Linked DNA regions of Homo sapiens: region 1 is linked to region 2. The links come from fine-mapping of genetic effects on gene expression. A gene starts in region 2. The other region holds a variant in brackets. All regions are shown on one strand. Distances are from middle to middle.

Region 1 (12,842 bases), 86 kb before region 2:
TGCAGGTCTCGGCAAGGAGCTGGACTTTTATTCTAGGTGTGATGGGAAGTTGTGTTGTTATGGCCACTGAAGGAGTTGCGTGGATGGAGTTGGACCAGAGGGTGGGTGCCCTTCCTGCCTTGCCAGCCTTAGGTTCAAGGAGGAAGTTGATTGCTTAGGCCTTAAGCTTGCCCCTCCTCATCTGACCTCCTGGCTTCTAGGACATTCCTGAGGACGTACACCAAGTCTCCAACATTACCTGATGTCAGATCAGGTAAGCCCTCATCTTATAGATAGGGCTAAGACTGAGGCCCTGACTTCAGGGATGTGTCTTCACCTTTGAGTAGGAGAAGCAGGGGTGGTATCTGCTTCATCTACTCATGTACCTGCAGCACCTAGCACAGGCTGACCAGCCCATCCTTGGACCCAGGCAAGCGGGGCTCTGCCCTGGCCAGCCTCCAGCTGCGTACATCCCCACAGGCTAGAGAGTCTGCAGTGCCAAGGGGATATACCCATCCAAGTCTTTGCTCCTTGTCTAGAATACTACAGATTCCTAGGATTCCTGAGCTCCCTACCTAAAAGTCCCAAGCCTGCTGCCAGGCCTCTTCCTGGTCTATTGTCTGGAGGCAGAACACTAAGCCCAGGGTGTAGCCAAGGGGCACTGCAGAGGATAGGGTGTGGATGGAGATTGGACCTGCAGCCTGGGATGTCTACACACATGCAGGTGAGGTGTGCACGGTACAGGATGGAGCTGGGGATGAGAAGGGAAGGTGGCAGTTTATAGGCTGGGAAATGAGCGACCAGGGAATGGGGCTGGCTCTCCCCAGCACCGCCACATTTCAGTGCGAGTATCTAAGAAATCCAAATCAATCCTGGCCTTTCAGGCTGCTGAGAAGTTATACTTACTGAGGAGAAGGATAGAACATTTAAGAGAAGGTATTGGTCTGATTTATAATTTTTAAATATTTAGATTTAAGGGTGAGTGGACACCAGCCTCCACCAATATCAAGAGTGTGTTTGGCCTAGACCCTAGGAGATATTCAATATTTATCAAATAGATGGATGAATCTCATTTAATTTAATCCTCACACAGACTCAACGGAGGGAAATCACATCGTCTGTGCTTTATTGATGAGGGAACTAAGGCTTGGAGAGATTTAATGACTGGCCTATTTGTCAAGTTAGAAGTTTGTCTAGCAGAGCTGAGAGCCTCAAGCCCTAACGTGTCTGATTCCAAAATCCATTGCAATTGGTTCATGACAAGTTCACTCCCATTATGACCACATTAAATATATTATAACTGTTTGAGCATGTCACTCGCTGATCTTTGGGAACATAAGCACTGTTTATATTACATGAAAAAGGCCTTCTCTTCTTCATTCTTACTCTACCCTCTCAGGCACCTTTGGGAAGTAGTAAGACAGGAGCTAATGCTCCATTTAACAAATGGAAAACTGAGGACTGAGCAATAGCCCAAGGTGTCAACGAGGCTTAAACAAATAGGGATTTTTTTTTTTTTTTTCATGTAGCAAGAAATCCGGAGGTAGCTGGGCAAGGGCTGGTATAATTTTTGCATTATTTTCAGCAAACAACTTCTGCCTCTTGGTCTCTTCTGGCTATTTATTGCTACAGCATAACAAACTGCCCCCAAACAACAACCATTGTATCGTCTACAGTTTTGTGAGTCAGAAATTTGCGCAGGGCTCAGCTGGGTGATCCTTCAGTGATCCATGGAGCGCCGACTAGAGTCACTCAGTGATCTTCAGCTGCTGATTGTGCTATGCTGGAGGATCGAGATGGTTTCACTCAGGTTCCTGGTGCTTTCGTGGGGATGGCTGGAACACTGAGCTCAGCTGGGTCCGTCTGCCTCTCCATGGAATCCCAGGGCTTCTCCAGGTGGGTGTCTCCAGCAGAGTAGTTTGACCTTTTTCATGGCAGCTCATGGCTCCCAGAGGCCATAGCAGAAACTGCCAGTCCTCCTAGAGGTTAGGCCTGGAGTGGGCGTGACATCATTTCCACCATACTCTATTGGTCAAAGAAGTCACAGGTCAGCCCAGATTTAAGTACAGGGGAAATTGACTCCTCTCAAAGGGAGGAGGATCAAAGAATCCACAGCCATCTTTAAATTATCACATGGTCCGAGCTGCTTGAGATGTAGTCATCATGTCTCAAATTCCAGAAAGTGTGGAGGACTGGTGGAGGAAGGTGTTTACCTTCCCTTTTAAGACATTTTCTGGAAGTCACACACAACATTTTCCATTGGCCAGAACTTACATGGGCATACCTAGGATATGGAAGGGAAACTGGAAACTGTAATCTTTATTGCAGGAGGCAAGCCATGTATTCTGATGAAAATTAGGGATTTTGTTGACTAAGGAAGAAGGGGAGCATGGGTATTGAGGACCAACTAAAATCTATTCCATGGTTAGGTGTTTTGTTGTTGTTGTTGTTGTTTTTGCTACCAACAGCCAAACACTGTTCCTAGCAGAGATGTTTCTATACCAGTCTTCTCCTTCCTAACACATCTTCCACTCTGTCATCAAAATAATCTTTCCTTTTTTATTATTTGTTATGTTCCTATACCGTATATCTTTTAATCATTCCTATGCCAACAGCAAGTGTCCGAATTATTTTGTGTTGTGTGAAACAGTAATGGGGTTTGCCACACACCAGGCACTGTGCCAAGCACTAAATGAACATATCTCACTTGATCTCCGCAGTATCCCACTGAGTGAGGATCACAGACGAGGAAGCAGAAACCCAGAGAGGTTAAATGACTTGCTCCGGGCCACACAGAGAGTAGGTGCAAGGCTGAGATTCAAACCCTCGACTGTCAGATTCCAGAGCTGTGCTGTGAAACCCACACATGTGAAGCTCAGGGACTGTTTATGGATGACAGCCCCGGAGCATGGGCAAGACTTGTGCCTGGTGTGTGAAGGTTACAGGTGACAAATGTGAGCCAAGAGCCTGCAGATGCTCCCTTCCCGCTGTGATCCTTCAGTAGGGAAGACTGCATCAAGCCCCAGGGCCATGCTGGCATATTTCATGAAATTAAACTGGCACCAGGAATTCATATCATTCTATTTCCTTTACACCCTGACTGAACCCCAAGTCTGGAGGAGACTTTGCAGAACTGGCTACATTGCTAAGCAGGGCACAGGCCCAGTTAAATGAGGCACCTTTCTGCTCCAGCTCCAAGCTTCTCTGTTCTGACCCCGGTCTTTCTTGCCTTTGCCTCACCCCTGTTCGAGGACATGCAGTGACTCCCTGTTCCCCTCAAGTTCAGTTTTGCCTTTCTCCAAATGCTCCTTGTAAGGACTGGGGAGAATACGGTTCCATCCTTTCGGTGAATTTCAGTTTCTGCATCTGTCAAATGGGAGGAAATAATCCCTGCTTTGCTAAGTAATTGAAATGTTGAGGACCACACAGGACAAGGAATAGGAATGGCCTTTGCAGGGCAGAGCAGGCGAGGGGCACAATCCCACTGGATCTGAGTAGTATTTAGAAGACTAGGCATTATCTCCTCGGAAGGCAGAAAGATCTGGGGTAGGGAGTGGGGTTGTGGAGGATCAGGGAGTGCCCTGCACCTTCTTGTGGGGGCTCCTGCCCACAGTCTTGCAGAGGAAGTGGCCCAGGGTGAGCATTTACATATTCTATATGCCCCGCTGGGGGGACACAGTGAGACCACCGGTTCTGAAACCAGATAAACCTGTGTTTGAGTGTCCCAGCTTCATCTCGTACTAGCTGAAGGACCTTTGGATAAGTCATATCACTTCTGCCTCCAGTTTCACAGCTATAAGTTGGGGCTGAAAAAAGAACCTGTCTCATTGGGATTTTATAAGGAATCAAATGAGAATGTGCGCCTTTAAAGCACCTCATTTAGCACAGAAGAACTGTTCAACCAATAGTCATGGTAAGAGTGACTGGTGTTTTTTGAGCCCTGATTAAATTATATGCCATAAGAGTCTTCTTGATTAGTTTATATACTCCTCACCACAATGCTAAGATGTAGTTAACATTATTATTTCCCACTTGTAGATGTAGAGATGGGGATGCAGTTAGGCTGAACGAGCTGCCCAAGGTCATAGTAAGTGGTAGAAGCTGGGCTTGAACCGGAACCCAGTCTGTCTGATGCAGTCTTCCTTAATCAATAGCCATGCTGTTACTATTACTGTTGACATTACTATTATTGACCTTGAATTCTTTACCCAATATCTCCACACTTCCACAACACCTGGTGGGGGCAGGAAGAGCCACCTGACCCAAAGACTGCCAAAATATAGGCTGAGCAGCCTGTGATACAGCCTGGGACAGAAGCTCCACCCAGCAGGGCTGAGCCCAATTAACTAAACTCATCAGCAGTGATGGTGGCTGCCAGTTTGAATTGGACCACAAAGAGTTGGGATGATGCCTACAAGCTGAAAGACCCTAAAAGATGACATAATTCAAACAAATGTGAAGGCACAGGGGCAATGAGTAAGCCAAACTTCCAAGACAGACAAGGGGGAGGAGAAATTTGACAAACGTCTGCTCCTGAGATGACTATGAACTGACTCAGTCCCAGAGCACTGGGTCCTGAATGATGTTCCAGTGGCTAAGTTGTATTCTGTGATGTGTGGTCAAAATTCCTGCCTTCCAGTCCCTGCATGTAGCTTTACAACAACCCCCATGGCTCAAGTTAGGAGAGAGGCTCTGCTCTTTTCAACCAAAATTAGGCTAGCTCAGCTCTCCCGTTTATCTTTAGGGTAAATGCTAAGATTTGGAAGTGGTGAATGGAGAGGGAGGTAGGATCAGGACATCCCTCCATCAATCCCAGGTGACGAGGCCCAGAAGACATGGCCTGGCCCAGTTCCTGTTATATCAGAACCTTAGTCCATGTCTCACCATCTACAATCATATCCTAAGTGATCTCACTCACCATCTGGGGTGACTCCGGGCCAGGCGTCTCCCCTGCACTCCAGCCTCATGCCCAGCTACTAACTCCACAGCTCCGTCCGTGTTACACAGGCATGTCAAATCTCACCTGTCCAAAATGGAACTCCTGATTGTGCCTCCAAAACCCACCCCTTCTGCAGGATTTTCATATCAGGAAATGCCAACTCTATAATTCGAGCTGCTTAGGTCAAATACCTTGGAGTCAGCCCTGGCTGTCCTGAGTCATATTCCAACATTCTTGCAGTCCACAAATTCTATTGGCTCTTCCTTCTAAACGTATCCGTGCCCTCCATGATCACCCTAGTCTGACCCACTATCGTCTGTCACCTGGGGTGACACAACAGCCTCCTCTTGCCTCTGGCCTGCCTTCTACAACTTGTTCTGAACTCAGCAGCCAGAGATGTCCTGTTAAAACCTAGGCTGGAGCTTGTAGTCCTCTTGCTCAAAACCCACCCATCACTGCCCTTCTCACTCAGAGGAAAAACAAAGGCCTCCTAAGTCACACAGTCTGACCTCCTCAGTTTCCCCTACAGACCTGCCTCCCTGACCTCACCTCCCAGAGCTCTCCCCAGCCCTTCCTCTATTCCAGCCACTCAAGGTGATCACCACTCCTGGAAGGAGAACTCCCACCCATGGGCCTTTGCATCTGCTGTGCCCTCTGCCTGGGGTGCCCCTCCAGCACGGCTCCCTATCTCACTTGTGTGGGTCTGCAGAGATGCCTTCCCTGGGTACCTCATTAAAAATTACCACCCACTCCAGCAGTCCCTCCCCCGTCTCCTTCCCTGCTTTAACTTTCTCTGTAGCATTTAACACCATCTATTGACACGCGGTAGATTTTACTTACTGTTTCGTGTCATCTCCCACACTGGGATGTTAGCTACGTCTAGGGAAGGACCTTCTTCCATCAGGTGTATCCCCCTTGCCTAGAACACAGCGTCTGATGCATAGTAGGTGCTCAGCAAATCCTTGTCAAATGAACAAAGAAGCACACATAAGAGGACTTCCTGGAGGCACCCCTACCCAGTTCTCACGCCCCCAGCAGCCACCCTCTGGGTGTTCCAGGCCCTAGGCTAGTCCCCTCACTTCTTTGATCCTATTCAGGGGAAATCGGCCTCAGGCCCTGTCCGAAAACAGGAGAACTAAGGAGAAGCTAGTCATGGAGGAATTAGTCCAAATAGGTGGGGATTTCTTTTTAATTAGAACTATTTTTTTTTTTCCCTTCACACAAAAGGACTTGTGTCCCAGTAGCTGGCTCTCCTGTCAAAGCTTGTCCCGGGCTGAGAGCTGGAGCTCTGTGTTCCCACCAAGGATCTACTGTCAGAATCACTGGAGAGCAGCGTGGGCTTTACAGAAGGAAGGTTCTGGGGCAGCAGGGGCACGTGGCCTCCCTGGGACAGGCACACACCTGGAAACCCCACAAATGGGAAGGACTCCATGTGGGTGACAGGTGAGGCTGGTAACAAGCGTGTAGGGTCACTGTACTGTTCTCTCCACTTCCTGTAGTTTGAGAATTTTCTTTAGAGAGAGAAAAAAAAAAAAGAGTGTTTTTCCCCTGAAGTTCTCT[T/G]TTCCCGACACATGCCCAGAGGATTTCCTGTAGCCCTCCCTCCCCACCATACCCCACCCACAACTTCTCTTTTCTCCTCCCCTCTGATTCGAGGAGAGAGCCATTCTGCTCTGCTTACTAGCTGCCTGTCTGCATCTGGGGACACTTACAAACCTTTGATGCCTGTTTACTCCCCTACTCGCCAAGATTTGGGTCCAGATGGCCTGGTGAGGTGGTGCTGGGCACTGATGGTTGCTAAATGCTCCCTGGGTGATCCTGGCACTTTCTAGAGTTGAGCAACTACCTTGTTACCCCAGACCCAGCCCTGACTCTGCCACACTCAGGGATCTCCTGTTAATAGGGTCCAGCCTCCTTAGAAGACAGTTTAACAACATATTTTGTTACCTGAGCCCATCTTTGGGGTCCACCATAGCTGCCTAAGTGACTTGAGGAGATATTTCTTCCAAACCCAGACAAAGAGCCTCATTCACCACCAGCACTCCTGGTGGATGACATCCTCCCTGTTACCTTATGCGACACGGGTTCCCTGTGACCATTTGGAAAGTGCAGAGAAGCACACAGGAGCTGGCCACAGCCCACTTCAAGCCCAGGAATTTGTGAACAGAAAGGAGCCATTGTCTCCAGTCACTTGAAGGGAACAGCTCAAAAACACATTCAAAGGGCCCTGATGATAATGAATATGCTAATATGATTTCCACTGGGCGCCTGTGCTACCTCCAAAAAACCCTTTCTGACCTTCCTCATGGATTCAAAGCTTTCATTGAAGTCGACAGGGGATTTTGGTTAAAATAACATGAAAGTTTTCATTTAAATGGACAAAGCTGGGAGTTGTGAATTAAGCATGAGTTTCACATTGGTCCTGACACCCCTGACCTTGATGGGGAAATGCATAGATTGTGACTGGACCTTCTGGACCTTCTAGCTATTGCCTTTGGGTGGGCAGAGCTAGCAAGCATTAAGGGTCCCTTTTGCATGACAAGTGAACTCTGGAGACCTAGGTTTAAATCCCAGCTCTGACACTTACTAGCTGGGTGACCTTGAGAAAGGCAAATCATTTCTCTGATTGAGCCTCAATTTCCCCATCTGTAAAATGGTTTGGATAATACTTCCCTTGCAGCATTGCTTCCAAGAGTGAATAAGAAGTCTGTATGTGGGAGGGGTTGGGGAAGTGGAAAACATCTTGGAGCTCCCCACCGTCTCACCCAGTCAGAGACCCAGCAAGGGTGTGAACACCTCCAGCCTCCCATATCCCAGACCTTCTTTCCTTCATTCAGCGTATATTTATAAAGCATTTCCTGGGTGCCAGGTACTGTTTTGGGGCTGGGGATTCAGCTGTGAACAGAACAGATGAACTCTGCCCTCAGTGGAGCTGCCATTGTAGTGGGAAGGACAGACATTAAACACATGAATAGATAAATAATAAGTAAGTGGGCTGGGCGTGGTGGCTCACGCCTGTAATCCTGACACTTCGGGAGGCCGAGGGGTGGGGGGGGGGGTGTTGGATCACCTGAGGTCAGGAGTTCGAGACCAGCCTAACCAACATGGTGAAACCCCATCTCTACTAAAAATACAAGGGCGTGGTGGCACATGCCTGTAATCCCAGCTACTCGGGAGGCTGAGGCATGATAATCACTTGAACCTGGGAGGCGGAGGTTGCAGTGAGCCGAGATCATGCCACTGCACTCCAGCCTGGGCAACAGAGCAAGACTTCGTCTCAAAAATAATAATAATAATATGTAAGTGGTAATAAGTTCTTTGGAGAAGAAAAACAAAGTCCTTAATGAAAAGAGCAGAGCTTTAGAATTAGACAGAGCTGAATTCAAATCTCAGCTTGCTCTTTGCTGGCTGTGTAATGCCTGGGAAAGAGATTTTATCTCCCTAACACTCTTCTGCACATTTTTTAATGAGACCCACTGATGAATCACCCACCCATTGAACAAATATTTATAGAACTCTGGGCCAGGCACGGTGGCTCATGCCTGTAATCCCAGCACTTCAGGAGGCCGATGCAGGCGGGTCACTGAGGTCAGGAGTTGGATACCAGCCCGGCCAATATGATGAAATCACATCTCTACTAAAAATACCCCCCCAAAAAAGAAAAAAAAATAGCTGGACATGGTGGCGTGCACTTGTAATCCCAGCTATTCCAGAGGCTGTGACAGGAGAATCGCTTGAACCCAGGAGACAGAGGTTATAGTGAGCCAAGATCGTGCCACTGCACTTCAGCCTGGGCAAGTGAGCCAGACTCCATCTCAAAAAAGAAAAAAGAACTCTGTCCTGTGTCAAGCATTGTTTTGAGTGCTGGGGAGGCCACAGTGAATGAAACAAAAATCCTTGCCCTTGGGAGCTTAAAATCTAAAAGGGAGAAATAGACAATTAACAAATATACGTATATCAGGTGATGAAAGAAAAAGCAAGGGAAGGAGGTCAAGAATGTGGAGGACATTATTTCAGGGAGTGGTGGTCAGGGAAGGCCTCTCTGGGGAGCTGACATTTAAGTGGAGCTTTGAAAGATGTAGGGGAGTTAGCCATGTGGGTGTCTGAAGGAAGAACCTTCCCAGTCGGAGGAGACATCAAGGGCAAAGGCCCTGAGGTAGGGCCATGCGTGGCTGTTGGGAGGATTAGGGAATTGGAGGCAATGTCTAAGACACACCCAGCACAGCCCCTGGCTCTGAGTGGGGGTTCAATCAATAGCAGTTATTATTTGTACTCATTTTATGAAAAATGCAAGAGAAGTCATTTTCCATTATTATAAAAGTTCTTGAAGGCTTTGTGGATTGATGACTTTATTCCCTTTTCTTCTTTTGTTTTTCTGAATCAGAACCAGCAAGTCCAACCCCCAAGCCCACCTGCCAGCCCGCCTCTGTGCCCCCAGTCCCAATCCGGCAGGAATGTTTGACATGCAGTGGTGCTGGAGGGAGGGAGTGTGTAATTAATGATGGTTATTAAATAATAATGCCAGCATCTTGAAGTTCTTTCCTCTCCACAGCCTCACAAATTAGACGCCTTCGAAATGTTGTGCCCGTCGCCAAGATGCACCTCCATCTGGGGTGGAAGCAACATCTGCTAAACAGCTGCATCTTGTTTAAGAGCTGGTACTTAATTCAATTATTCAGCTCTGATAGGGGCAGGCAGAGCTGAGCGGAAGGGGCAGGCCCAGTCATGGGCATATGCTGCTCCACGTCTTCCCAAGTTGACCCAAACTCCTCTCCCACAGCGTCCCCACTCGCATCTGTTGATTCAACCAACCTAGACATCTGTACATTTCCAGAACCGGCCATGCTCACTCATGCTGCCTCCTTGCTTTTTACTCAAGCTGTGTGCCCCTGCCAGGAACACTCTTCTGCTGCCTGTCCAACTCCCGTGTCCTTCGAAAGGCCCAACTCAAACATCAGTATCTCCTCCAGGACAGAGCATAGGGAATTACCTCCCATGAGCTCTCTCGGTGCTTCATGCATTCCTTAACTGGAGCATTCATAACATTACATTGCAATTTTGTGTACCCTGCTGTTTTGTAAGCCCCTTAGGCTGGGAACCATGTGTATTTCATTCTTGTTATCTCAGCATTGTACCTGACTCCCCATAGACACACCCAGCACAGCCCCTGGCTCTGAGTGTTTAGTTAATGGATGGATGGATGGGTGGGTGGGTGGATGGATGGATGGATGGATGGGTGGGTGGGTGGATGGGAGGGTGGATGGATGGATGGATGGATGGATGGATGGATGGATGGATGCATGCATGGATGGATGGGTGGGTGGATGAATGGGTGGATGGGTTGGTGGGTGGATGGATGGGTGGGTGGATGGATGGGTGGGTGGATGGATGGGTGGATGGATGAATGGATGGATGAAGAGATAGAAGAATGGAAGAAAGGAGGGAAGAACAAAGCGGTAGACAAACAGATGGACCCACTGCCACCATCTAAATCCAAACAACCATCATTTCTCACTGAAACACTGGGGTCTCTCACTGGTCTTTCAGTTTCTACTCTTGCCCCCAGTAGTCTCTTCTACTCAAAGCACTTAGTAATCTTTTGAATATGGATTTATATCATGTCACTCCCCTGTTAAAAACCTTCCAGTGGCTTCCATATTCCTAACCCTGACCTCCAAACCCCTATAGGAAACAGCCCCTGCTTATCCCTCTGATATCATCTCCTCTCTGTCCTATGCTCTGAATACTTGGGGAACCTGCCAAGCTCTCTCTCACCTCAGGACCTTTGAATCTGCTCTTCCCCTTTGCCTGGGACTCACTTCCCTGGATTTCTGTCAAGCTAGTATCTTCTTAAGTCTTCCAGTCTAGCTCTAATGCCACATCCTCAAAGAGACACTTCTTTACTTTGCCAGTTAAAATAGCCACCATTGTGGTCCTTAAAGGCCAAGGGGCCTGATCCAAATACCAATGCTTTGGCTGCTGAAACCCAACAGGCTTCCCAGAGCATCATCCTCAGCTGGGGTCGTGACGCAGACCTCCCCCAAGTGCCTGCCCTACAAGCCATCCCTTCCCTGGGTGCTCACTCCTCCTCTCCATCAACTAAAGATCCTTCATGAATGGGCTTGTCTGGAACTGCCGCAATTAAACTATCAGAGCAACATTGGACCATTTGTTTACTATGGCACTTAGAGCTGGAATGGCTTGTTGTTTTGACTGTTTCTATTTTCAGCTCCATTTCCTAGGGGTAGTGGGGAGAGGGTAGGCAATGAATCCTGGTCTGTTCAAGCAAAAAGATGCATCAGTGAAGCCTAGAATTTCAGAGTCACAGAATTCTAGCATCATTGTCATGGAATATGAGAGCAGTGAAAATCTATAATTTTGGTTATAGGTTCCTAGATTCACGAGATTCTAGAATCTTACTCAATGAAATTAGAATCTTAAAGTCAGACAAATTTAGACTCAAAGTCCTAGAGTGATGGGCTCTGAGGAGACTGTCACTTTGTCTACTCCATATCTCTTTCCCAGAAGATCTTCTCTGGGTACCTTATCCACAACGTTCCCCCCTACCGACCCACAGCCTGTCACTCTCTATTGTTTTAATTTTTCTTTATGGCTCTGATCACCACCTGACATTTGATCTGTTTCTCTGTTCATTTGCTTATTGCCTGTCTCCCTCACATGTGAGATTGAGGTCAGGAACTTTGTTTTGTTCAACGTTTAGAACAATGCCTGGCATGTTCTAAACAGTACTCAGAACAATGCCTGGCATGAAGTAAGGGCTAAAAAAAGCAGTGCCCATTCATCCAAAAAATATTTATTGCATCCCCACTTCATATTGGTGCCTCAGAGATGATCTTCTCTCAGGACAGGAAGCAGGTCTCACTTTGCATGCCAAATGCAATTGGCAGTAGATACCCAGAGCACGGTGTTGAAAAGACTTCTTGGGGCTTATCCAAGCTCCGTGGGGAAGGGCAATTGATGAGCAATGTCTGGCATAGACTCAGCCATGGGAAAAAGTGGCCATCTCTGCTCTGGCCTCCAACCCTGCACTGAAAAAAACTGAGGTCCAGAAGAAGATGCACTGGGCATGCATGGGGTGCATAGCCAGAGTTAGAACCCCATCTTCAGTCTCCCCTCAGTGTTGGTTCCTGAGCCCAAGCCTCTCACAAGCACCTGTGTGTGCCCTCCCCTCCCCATCAGCCCTTAGGCTCTCCCTCCCCCGAGGCCTTCCTGGGATGAAGGGGCTGCTGGAGTCCCTGGCCCTGAACCACAGCCTGGGAACCCAATTCTGGAACACCGCCTGAATGCGCAAGCCAGTTATTTTTAAAAATCCAAAAAGAAAAGGAAGAAAGAGAAAGCTCACTGCTTCGGTCTCCGCACTAGCCCTGGCTCAGAGAATAGAGACTTGAAAGGAACAAAGGGTTTCCTCAAACACAGCAGATCAAGGCCTTGGCTTATGTGGTAACCGGTAACCGACCACCGCGCTTTGTGACAAATCCTTCAGAAGGCAACGGCCTCTGTTCCCTCTGCAGCCTTGGCAGAAGGAGGTGGGGGAGCAGGGGACACCCTTCCCCATCGCCCCCCAGCCCCAGTCGGGCTGCTTACAATCATGGACTTCGAGAACCCCTGACTGTTAGGACCTCAAAGGCCTTCACAGAGCATGGAATCCAACCCGCTCTGGGTCAGCCAGGCAGGCAGAAGCCCTGGACAGGCTCAAGGTCACACTTTCCTCCTCCCTGGGTTCTCTTTGAAGGAGGTGGAGACCAGGGAAGTGCACCCAAGCCTCCATTTCCTCTTGAACCCATCACAGCTGCCTGAGATGCCCTCTCAGAACTCTCCCAGCTACCAAGATTCCTACTTCTTTTTTTCCTCCTGTGGATTTCTTCTTCCAAGGTGCCTGTGGGGTGTGGTTTGACCCCTGGAGACC
Region 2 (9,982 bases):
CTTCTGGAAGTCCAGGGCAGGAGGCTGCCTCTTCTCTGACTTCATCAGCAGCCCCCATCTCCACTCCCACCCCAGATGGAGTCTGGTGACAGATTTTCCCAGGAGCCTCCCTGGTTACCTTCATGGTCTAGACCCGATGTGGCCTGAAGAGTTGGAGACCTTCCCTGCACCCACCTCAGATACCAGGATAACCCCAGAACAATCTTTCTCATTGGTGCCCAATTCCACGCTCCTCTCTCTCCAGTCCACCCTCCGCTTGCAGACTGGCCTTTTAGACACATAAATCAGACATGGCCCTCCCGTGCTGAAAACCCTCTAGGGGTCTCCCAACTGCAGAATAAACGCAGGCTCTTTACCCAGGTCTTGGAGACCATCCCACCCTCCCCAGTCCTGCATACTGCGCTTTCTCTCCTCCGGCCTAGCCACCTGGGGCCTTCCCCTCCTTGTGCTGGGCCCTCTTCCTGGAACACCTTTCTCCCCAAATCTTCGCCTTGCTGACCCTACTTGTGATTCAGCAACCCATGTCTCAGGGAGGTCTTACTGGCCCCCTTATCTAAATACGCTCACCCCTCTCCTTCTCTAAGTTCAATCTTCCGTTCTTCATTAATTATTTCTACTTGTCCACTTACCTGTCTCCCCTAGTAGAATATAAATTCCTCATGGACAGGGACCTCGTGCTCTCCCACACCCAGAGAAATGAAAATTCCCTTGCACTTCAAATGCTGCCCAGAACCCTGTGGGTTCTCAAGGACTGTTGTCAAACACTTCACTTATTTATCAAATGCTTATGTTGCACTTGGTATGTGCTAGGCTCTTTTTAACATGTCTTACAAATATTAACTCATCAAATCCTCACAATTGAGACTCACGCTGGCCTCGTCTCAGATGAAGAAGCTGAGGCACAGAAGAGGTAAGGCACTTTCCAGTCCACCCAGCTCATAACAGTAGCCGGGGGATTTGAACCCACGGAGTTCAGCCCATGTTCTCAAGTGTGGCACCTTCCCTGCCCCCCTGCACAACAGCAGGGCCATGCCTTCACCAGGAGGCTCGGGGCAGGAGGGGAGGCAGTGGTGTTACTTTGCACAGGTCTTTAACCTGGGAATCAGGAATTCAAATCTTGTTTCTACCCCAAGCTTTGCTGTGTGGCCTTAAGCAAACCTATTCCCTCTCCGGGCCTCAACTTTCTGTCCATTTACAGGGTTGGGCCTTCTCTCACCTTGTGTCATTCCTGTCCTCTTAACCGCCACTGTGTGAACCAAAATTCTCTCCCATTAGCAGCGGGGTCTTGAACTTGTGTTCCTCCCACAGTGCGGAGCCTTCTGCCAGGTGACCACGACACTGGCACTCCCCATCACTGACCTGGCTACTACAGGAACGGCGTTCCCTCCGGGAAAACCGGGGTTCTGTCCTCTCCAACTCCAGGCCTCTGGCCCCGGCTCCCCTTCCCCTCATCTTCCTCAGGGCTTGTCCTTCTCCCGGAACCCAGGCCTTCAGGGCCCCGCTCTCCCACACACGCCCCGGCCTGGGCCTCCCACCCGCCCAGTCCGCCCTCCACCACCGAGACACCTGGCCAGGGGGCCTCCACCTCCCTGGGAAGGCCCCGACCCTTCCCCTCTGGTTGCGCGCCACAGCCCCCTTCTCGCTCCCTCTCCTCCCCGCGCCTCTTTTCCAGGCGGCACCGAAGTCCTTCCTACACACACGCTATTTTTGTACCATCATCTCTTCTTCCTCTCCCCTTCCCCCTGCGTTCACTTACTTCCTTCTTTTCCTTCACCTCGGCCCGGCTCTGAAAGGATCGGGCCCCTCCGGCCCGCACCCACCCCCAAGAGGGGCCTTCAGCTTTGGGGCTCAGAGGCACGACCTCCTGGGGAGGGTTAAAAGGCAGACGCCCCCCCGCCCCCCGCGCCCCCGCGCCCCGACTCCTTCGCCGCCTCCAGCCTCTCGCCAGTGGGAAGCGGGGAGCAGCCGCGCGGCCGGAGTCCGGAGGCGAGGGGAGGTCGGCCGCAACTTCCCCGGTCCACCTTAAGAGGACGATGTAGCCAGCTCGCAGCGCTGACCTTAGAAAAACAAGTTTGCGCAAAGTGGAGCGGGGACCCGGCCTCTGGGCAGCCCCGGCGGCGCTTCCAGTGCCTTCCAGCCCTCGCGGGCGGCGCAGGTCCGGGCCCGGCAGGGACGGGGAGGGGCAGAGCGGGACCGGTCGGGGCTGGGGACCAGCCGCGCGGGCTTCTGAACGGGCACGCTGTCGGAGCCGGAGGCTCGTCTAGTCCCGAGCCCCAGCGGGCCGCGGCGGCTCGCGGGGCCGCCTTCCCGGGACAGCAGCCGGGGCCCGGGCGCCGGCGCGGGGGAGGACGCTGCCCTCCCCGGCCGGGCGCGCAGCTCGCAGCCCTCGCTCCCTCCCCCGGGGCGCGCAGGCGGGCGCTCGCTCGCAGAGAAGGTGCCGGCGGGGCCGGAGCCCCGAAGCCTCCCCGGGCGGCGGGAAGACGGGAGGAGGGGAAAGGGAAGGAGGGAGGGGGTCGGGCTGCCGGGAGGGCGGGGGCAGCGGCCGGGACTGCGGGCCGGGAGCGAGCCCAGCCGCCCGCGCCGTGTGGAGCCCGGGCGGGGCAGGTGGGCAGCGGCGGGGGCGGCTCCGCGCGGCCGGGCTCGGCCGTGCTGCCCCTCGCCCCTGCTCGCGCGGTCCTCTCTCCCGCGCGGTCTGTCGGTCTGCGCGCCGCCTCGCTCCTCGCTCCTCGCTCTCCCCCTCTTTCTCCCCCTCTCGCCTCTCCGTGTCTCTGGCTCTCTGCCTGGCTCCCTTGGGTCTGTTTCTCTCTCCTGCCGCCTCTCTCTGGCCGCCCCTGGCTTTATTTCTCGCGCGCTTGGGGTCTCTCCCAGTCTCCGTCTCTCCATTTCTCCTGGGGGGCGGGGAGGGGGGGTCTCCAAAAACCGCGGCGGCGGCGGCGGCCGCTCCAGGCGCCCGTTCCGGAGTCGGGGGGAGGCCCAGCCGGGAGGGGGGAAGGGGGGGAGCCTTAGTCATTTCCCCGCTCCAGCCTGCTCCCGCCCGAGCGCGCACTCACGGCCGCTCTCCCTCCTCGCTCCGCAGCCGCGGCCCATGGAGCCCGCCGGCCCGGCCCCCGGCCGCCTCGGGCCGCTGCTCTGCCTGCTGCTCGCCGCGTCCTGCGCCTGGTCAGGTAAGCACCCCCCCGCTCCCCACCGCTGCACTCCCCAAACTGCGGGCTCAGGCCTCTCAGACTGGCACTGGGACCCCTTCGGCTAATGCCGAGCAGTAATAGGGGGAGAGACGCCTGTAACCAGGGTTATAGATGCAGAAACTGAGGCCCAGAGAGGGCCAGCGACATGCCCAAGGTCACACAGCCAAGGGTAGAACCCAAGTCTCTTCTATGAGAGTTTGTCTCTGTGGACTCTGACTCTGTGCACTGTGCTGGGCACTGAGACAAAAGAGCCGAGTTGCTTCACTCAGCCCCTGCCCGGTCCAATGGGGAAGGCTGACTGACAGTGGCTTTCAGAGCAGGGCCGTCCGGCTTCCCCAGAATCTGTCCCCATGGACATACGACTTTCCACATGTTTGACTTCAGGGTGTGAGGGGAGGAGGTGAGGGCAGAGGTCCTCCCGATGCTGCCTGGAATGGAACAGAGACAAGCTGTTGCAATTAGGGAAGAGTGAGCCCTCCCTCTGGTGCGCAGAGTAAACCGGTGTTAGTGTGTGCCTGGGAGAGAGGGAGCCGGGAGGCCGCGGTAACCCCAGAGCGAGCTGCTGCGAGCAACAGATCCTTATGTAAAAACACGGTGGATTGTCCCTGTGGTTGCCAAAGCCTCTCCCTGGTGGTCTTGCTCCTTGAGGCGCTCCCAGCTCCCCCTTCCTCCTGCCTTCCCCGAGCTTCCAGGCAGCTCCCTGCAGTTCAGGTGCTCCGCGGGGATGTTACCTGTGGCTCTGACCATGTCTTTCTGTTGGCCTACATCAAACACCTGGCTGTCGCCGGCAGGCGGGCTCTGAAGGCTACTGTGCATGTTCACCAAAGGGTGAGGTCACCATTCAGGAGTCTTGCTTCTTAAATGGGTTTTGCAAAACCATGGGTCTCCTGGGAGGGCACCGGGTGGGGGGCGGGGGGAGCAGAGAAATGGCATTAAGGGAGTTGGGAGGGAGAGAAAAATGGGGATCTTGTTTTTTGTCGTCTTGAAACTGTGTTGTAGGCAGTGGGGTCTCTCTGTACCTCCCACCCTTGAGGAGGGAGGTAAAGATGAGCTCAGTGTCCAACACCCCCTTTTGCGTTTGACTAGAGATGGTAACCATCTGATAGCAGGGAGAAAGGGAGAACTAGCAAAGAGTGGGTGGAAGGAGAAGTATGGGGGGTAGACAGCTGCTTCTCTCTGCCCTGCAGTTTCCCCTGAAACCCAGGAATTCACATAGGCATCCCCCCACCCCACCCCACCCTCCACCCCCAGTTCTTTTCAGTTATAGTTGCGTCCTTGCTGGGCTGAAGGGAGCACTGATACAGTTCACGTCTCTCCAGTGAGTGGCATCTCCTATCTGCTCCTTCCTGCCTGAGCTGGCCATTTGTACCCTGCAAAAGTCCGAGTTCCTGCCCTGCCATCCTTCCTGGCCTGGAAATGCACAAGTGTCACTCACAAGTGCTTAATTTTCCTGAAGCAGGGAATTGGGCCCGAGTTAATTTCTAAATGTCTATTCCAGACCCTTCTCCGACCAGGAGGCTGTGGTTCAGTCCCTGGCAAACGAGCAGTGACGCTGATTAGCAAGTGCTCCGATGGGCAGCCTGCCTTTCCTGGGGCACCGGCTGGGAACACCAACACCTTTCTTGTGAGCACATCTCCCCCTTTTGCCTATAAAAACAGTCTATAAGATGGTAAAGATTGGGCCATAAAACTTCCGTTCCAATCCATTCAGCATCAATAGCCTGAAAAAGTGGGAGCAGCAGAGGGGCCAAGATTAGCTTTGAAATAAATAAATCTTAGGAGGTAAGAATGAATTTCTTGGTCGAGGGTGGTGGGGAAGGGATGAGGTGCGACCATCATAGCTCAAGTCTCCCATTATCCTTCAGTATCTGTTCTTCGGGGTCCTGGTCACACCATGGGCCTGGGCAGGGAAGTCACCTGGTTTGGCTGAAGGATGGGGCCTCAGGCCCCTCCCCCTATTGCTCCAGACATGGAATTTACAACAAAGAAGTAGAGAGACAGGATATGAGGGTAGGAAGGTACAAGGAGGCAGTTGTCCAATTTTCTAAGAAAATGGATTTGTTCGAGTGAGAAACTAAAATGTCAGGTTTAGGAAGGCGGCTTTGGATTGAATGACTACTAGTGTCTCAGGCAGAACTGTCAGCCTGGGAGGTGTCACATGATTCCTGTGTCTTCACATGATCACTGTTTTGGGGGGGTGGGGCCAATCATGTGAATTATCCTGGGTGGGGGAGGCAAGAGAAGAAGTTTCTAAAGATTGCTTTTAGCACAAATGCTGCCAAAGGGAAATTCTAAAAAGATCCCAGTGAAGTCACCAACCTATGTTTTTGGACCCAATGTGAGGCCTGTTTCCTAAAACAACTGCACTGAGGGAGATTCTGAGGCTGGGAGAAGGGCAAGGGACTGAGGCCTGGGGACACCTGGCACCTGATTTTGTGTCAGCAGGGCCTGACGCTGAACCCGCAGGATGCCTGCTTGGCCCCAGGTAGGCCTTGAGACCTCTGAGTCACCCCCCAGGCCGACCTCAGATAAACTCCCATTCATTTCTTCTCTCTGGCCTGGAGGAGGCCAAGCCAAGTTGCAGTTCAGGCTCTGGGGAGCAGCGGGGCCCCCCAGTGAACCTCTCACCGTTTGGTAGAGGGTGGCACTCTGGGGGCTCCTCTGTACTTTCCTAAATGGTAAAGTTAATCTCACTTCCTCTTTCGTAAGAAGAGAAAACGGGGCGGGAGTGCTTTGGCTCAACACATCAGGCTGTTGGAAGTTCCTTTAAAGCCATAGTTTTCTCTGAGTACTTTCTGGCCTTTACCAACCCCTCGGAAACTCACGGTAATTCACGTCTGTACTTGCAGTCATGCAGCACCTATGCAGTGCTGGTGTGAACCATGTGTTGAGAGAAGGGAGGAAAACCAACATTCATTAGATAGTTAATGGCGTTCCAGGCCGGATGCTGCTCCTGCGTCGTCTCACCCGCAAGACATGGATTGGCTCTTCTCCCCATTCTGCAGATGCAGAAAATCGAGTCCCAAACTGGGGAACTAACTTATAAGTGATAGAGAGGAGCCAGGATTTTGGATGCTGGCCTTCCTGCTGGGTGGCTTCTAGGGAAGAAGCTCAATGACTTAATCAGGATGATTTAGTCCAAGCTGGAGAGGGAGTGAGAGAGGCCCCTTTCTGGCCTTGGGTGGAGGACTGTAGAAGAGTTCTTTCTCTGGGCAGAAGGTTTTGATGAAGTCACAGGCATTTCTCTGAAAGCCTGCTGAGGGTGGAAATACTGACAGCCCCTTGGTCCTCACCAGTAACAACACATGAGAGGTGATGTGGCTCCTGTGAGAGCCCCCCATCTGGGCTGCTGAGCTCTGGAGCCCCCAGAGCTGGAATATTCCTCCCTGCATCTTCCTGGTGCCCTTTGCGACAGATGGAGAGGGGGTGTGCGAGAGGAAGGGAGTCTAAAAGTGTTGTACGGATCCCACACGCGCTCGCTTGCTGCTTCCAATGGCTCCGTGCGACAGGTTATTTTCTTATTTGTAGTCTTGGACTGACGGAAGGTTTCCCCCCTCTCTCTCTCTTTTTAAATGTGCTCAGATTTCTGGCCTGTCAACACAACTCAGATCATGTCACTCCCCAGCTCAAAACTGTTGAGTGGGTCCAAGTTTTCTTTAAAAAAAAAAAACAAAAAAACACAAAGCTGCCGTGAGGCCTGGGCTTCCTCCCTGCCAGGCCTGATTTCCAGCCACATGTTTTCCAACAAGCTGACCTGTTGAGATGCTGCAGGATAACCAGGCTTCCTCCCTGCAGACCAGAGCTTTGCTGGCTACTCAGCCACACGAGCACCCCAAAGACCCTGAGAAGCCCTGCAATGTAGAATCCCGAGCTGGGTCACATTTACTCCAGTGTTCCCTGAACTTATGAACGAGAGGCATTTGATTTGTAGTATGCCCGTTAGCATGTGGCCTCTCTCCGTTTGGTAAACGGTTTTCTACAGATCCATGCCCTCAGCTGAACTCTCAGCTCTGTGCCTTGGCCCGTGCTGTTCCTGCCATCAGAAATGCCCTCCCTGTACCTCCTTGTCTTCCTGTGTCTGAATCCTACTCATCCTCCGAGGTTCAATTTAATGTGCCTCCTGGGGAGAGGTCAGAGGAGCCTCTCCACGCAGACACACACCCTGGCCTAGCGCTAAGATGGTGCTAAGACCCCTGGGTGTTGATCTGAGCCCTGCTACTGACTTGGACAATTTGCAGGAATCTGTGTCTCATTTTGCTCATCTGTAAAAGAGGAATGGTATTAACCACTCTATTGCAAGGATTAAGTTAATTAATGCGTGTATAATGCTGGAAGCCATGCCTTGTATGTAGTAAGCACTCAATACATATTAACCAGTGTTGTAATTAGCATGGCTTTATTCTGGTTTGATTCCTCTTTTTTAACAATTGGGACGGATTTTCATAAAACATCTAACACAGTTGCTTACACATAGGGGGTACTTAAAAAACAGCAAAGGCTGTTCAGTGAACAAATGTCCTTCAGCTTGATATTTTCCTTGTAGCTTTTTTTTTTTCTTTTTTTTTTTTTTGAGATGGAGTTTCACTCTTGTTGCCCAGGCTGGAGTGCAATGGCGTGATCTCGGCTCAACGCAACCTCCGCCTCCTGGGTTCAAGCGATTCTCCTGCCTCAGCCTCCCGAGTAGCTGGGATTACAGGGATGCGCCACCATGCCTGGCTGATTTTGTATTTTTAGTAGAGACAAGGTTTCTCCGTGTTGGTCAGGCTGGTCTCGAACTCCTGACCCCAGGTGATCCACCTCCCAAAGTGCTGGGATTACAGGCTGAGCCACCGCACCACCCAGCTGTCCTTGTAGCTTTTATGCTGTTGGGGGATGGACAAGTTGAGTAGAAACCCAGGCTAGAGTGATTTAATTGCCTGTTACTAGGGACTGAGTGCTGTGGGCACAGCCTGCCTCTAGGTGTCTCTATCTGGATCCACAGGTCTGCAGTTGTGGATTCCCGGACCTGCAAAGCAGTAGGGGGCCTGAGAGAGCCCTCTGTGCTTTCATCCAGTGCCTTATGGTGCGGCCAGAAGAACAGAGAGAAAAAAACTGGCCGGGCCCACGCGGGAGATCCATGGCAAGGCCCGGCTGGAACGCCAAGCCTCCTGTGGTCCAGGCCAAGGCTTTTAAAAACTGGGCTGTGCTGGAACTTTCCACTGTTTCAGCCAGAAATCTGACAGGATCCCGAATTCCCCGGGAAAACACTAAAGTAATACTAATAGGAACCATCTGGGTTCTCTGCTTCCTGGGCTCAGCACTTGGTGTGTGTGACCCTGGTGGTACTCACAGCCACCTGGCGATGCACGTCGTTATCTTCGGACCCGTTGGATCTGTGAGGAAACTGAGGCTCTGAATGGTGAAGCAGCTTGCCCAAGGCCACACCGTAAGCGCCAGATGTGGATAACCACTGTCGGCCTAATCACAGAGCCTATGTGGTTAACTGTTGTGCCATTCCTTAGCCGTCACTGAGGCTTGCTTGACAGGTAGGGAAACTGAGGCCCAGTTGTGCTGGCACCCTGCTCCCTTAGTGCTCCTCTCATTTTTGTTTTTGTTTTTTCTTCCTTTCTTTCTTTCTTTTTTTTTTTTTTTTTTTTTTTTTGAGACGGAGTCTTGCTCTGTCGCCCAGGCTGGAGTGCAGTGGTGCGACCTCGGCTCACTGCAGCCTCTGCCTCCTGGGTCCAAGCAATTCTCCTATCTCAGCCTCCCCAGTAGCTAGGACTACAGGCGCACACCGTCACGCCCAGCTAATTTTTGTGTTTTTAGTAGAGACTGGGTTTCACCATATTGATCAGGCTGGTCTCAAACTCCTGACCTCAGGTGATCCTCCCGCCTCGGCCTCCCAAAGTGCTGGGATTACAGGCGTGAGCCACTGCACCCGGCCTCCTCTCGTATTTCTATCAGTGCACCTTCCTATGAGGTGGGGGCAGTGTGTGTCCCCAAGGTGTGTCCCTGTCCCCATACTAGAGAAGGAAGCATCTATTTTCACAGCTGAAACTGCTTTCCTGTTAACTGCTGGTGTTCCTGGGATGGGTATTCTGATGAAGCCCTCCACGAGATGGATTTTCCCTGCCAGGTGTCTTGCCAGGCCCTCAGTCCAGAGAGATGCAAAACAGCTGAGGTGGAAGTCGGAAATGCTGCAGAATTGGTTCTTTGTGTCTGTAAGATTTCCTGGCACATTCGTTCGGGGGCGCAGGGTGTTAGATGGCTGCAGATTAGCGCCAAGAGCCCAAGGAGATCAGGTGCTCGGATCAGGAGGGAAATTGGAAGCCGGGAGTGAGCGATGGGCCTCCCAGCCAGGAGGGACGGCTGGAGCAGGTGGGCGGTGATACCAGCGCCGTTTCTACAGCTCCATTCTTCAGGCCGACCGTCGGTGTTCTCCAGAAATGGAAGCCCGTGGTGGAAGGAAATACTAGGTACACGATGTGCTCGGCACAGGCTGAGCCTTGAACATGTGTTAGCTCTTCCTTATCTTTTTATTTTGGAAAATTTCAAACATATGCAAAATGAGAAGGAATGATGTAATGAGCCTCAGCTTTGACACTGATCAACTCTATACCATGCTTGTCCCCTGCCCCTATTTTTGCTAGGGAGAGGAGAATCGGGGAGTATATAAAGCAAGTGCTAAACATGGGGTATCATTTCACCCACCGATACTCTCTCCACATCCCTTCATGTGAGCTGTTACCTGACCCTCACCACGAGCCAAACAGTATGGCCCTTCATCCCCACTTTACAGATAAGGCAACTGAGGCTTC

Which allele goes with the higher level. Alleles are on the strand shown, and positions count from the first base shown. SD is a standard deviation of normalised expression in the study named.
For the expression in subcutaneous fat of the gene that starts at base 3,045 in region 2, T is the low allele of the variant in region 1 and G is the other (small effect, 0.17 SD a copy in GTEx).

Evidence for each region. PIP is the estimated chance that this variant, and not a neighbour inherited with it, causes the effect.
Region 1: its variant is fine-mapped to the expression of SIRPA in subcutaneous fat (GTEx, PIP above 0.99). The same link has a PIP of 0.9 or more in tibial nerve.

What each region holds. Positions count from the first base shown.
Region 1 is chr20:1,804,796-1,817,637 of GRCh38, forward strand. No RefSeq gene overlaps it. Among named protein-coding and RNA genes, the nearest start is that of SIRPA, 84 kb to the right of the region's middle. RefSeq lists a silencer at 11,528-11,822. The variant T/G (reference allele first, on the strand shown) is at 6,479.
Region 2 is chr20:1,892,363-1,902,344 of GRCh38, forward strand. SIRPA (signal regulatory protein alpha) reads left to right here and starts at 3,045. Exons shown (of 8, transcript NM_001040023.2): 1 at 3,045-3,164. The coding sequence starts at 3,086. LOC102724545 (a long non-coding RNA gene) reads right to left here and starts at 1,888. Exons shown (of 4, transcript NR_186374.1): 1 at 1,757-1,888. RefSeq lists silencers at 2,009-2,268, 2,279-2,398 and enhancers at 3,690-4,205, 7,831-8,400, 8,210-8,259, 9,497-9,982.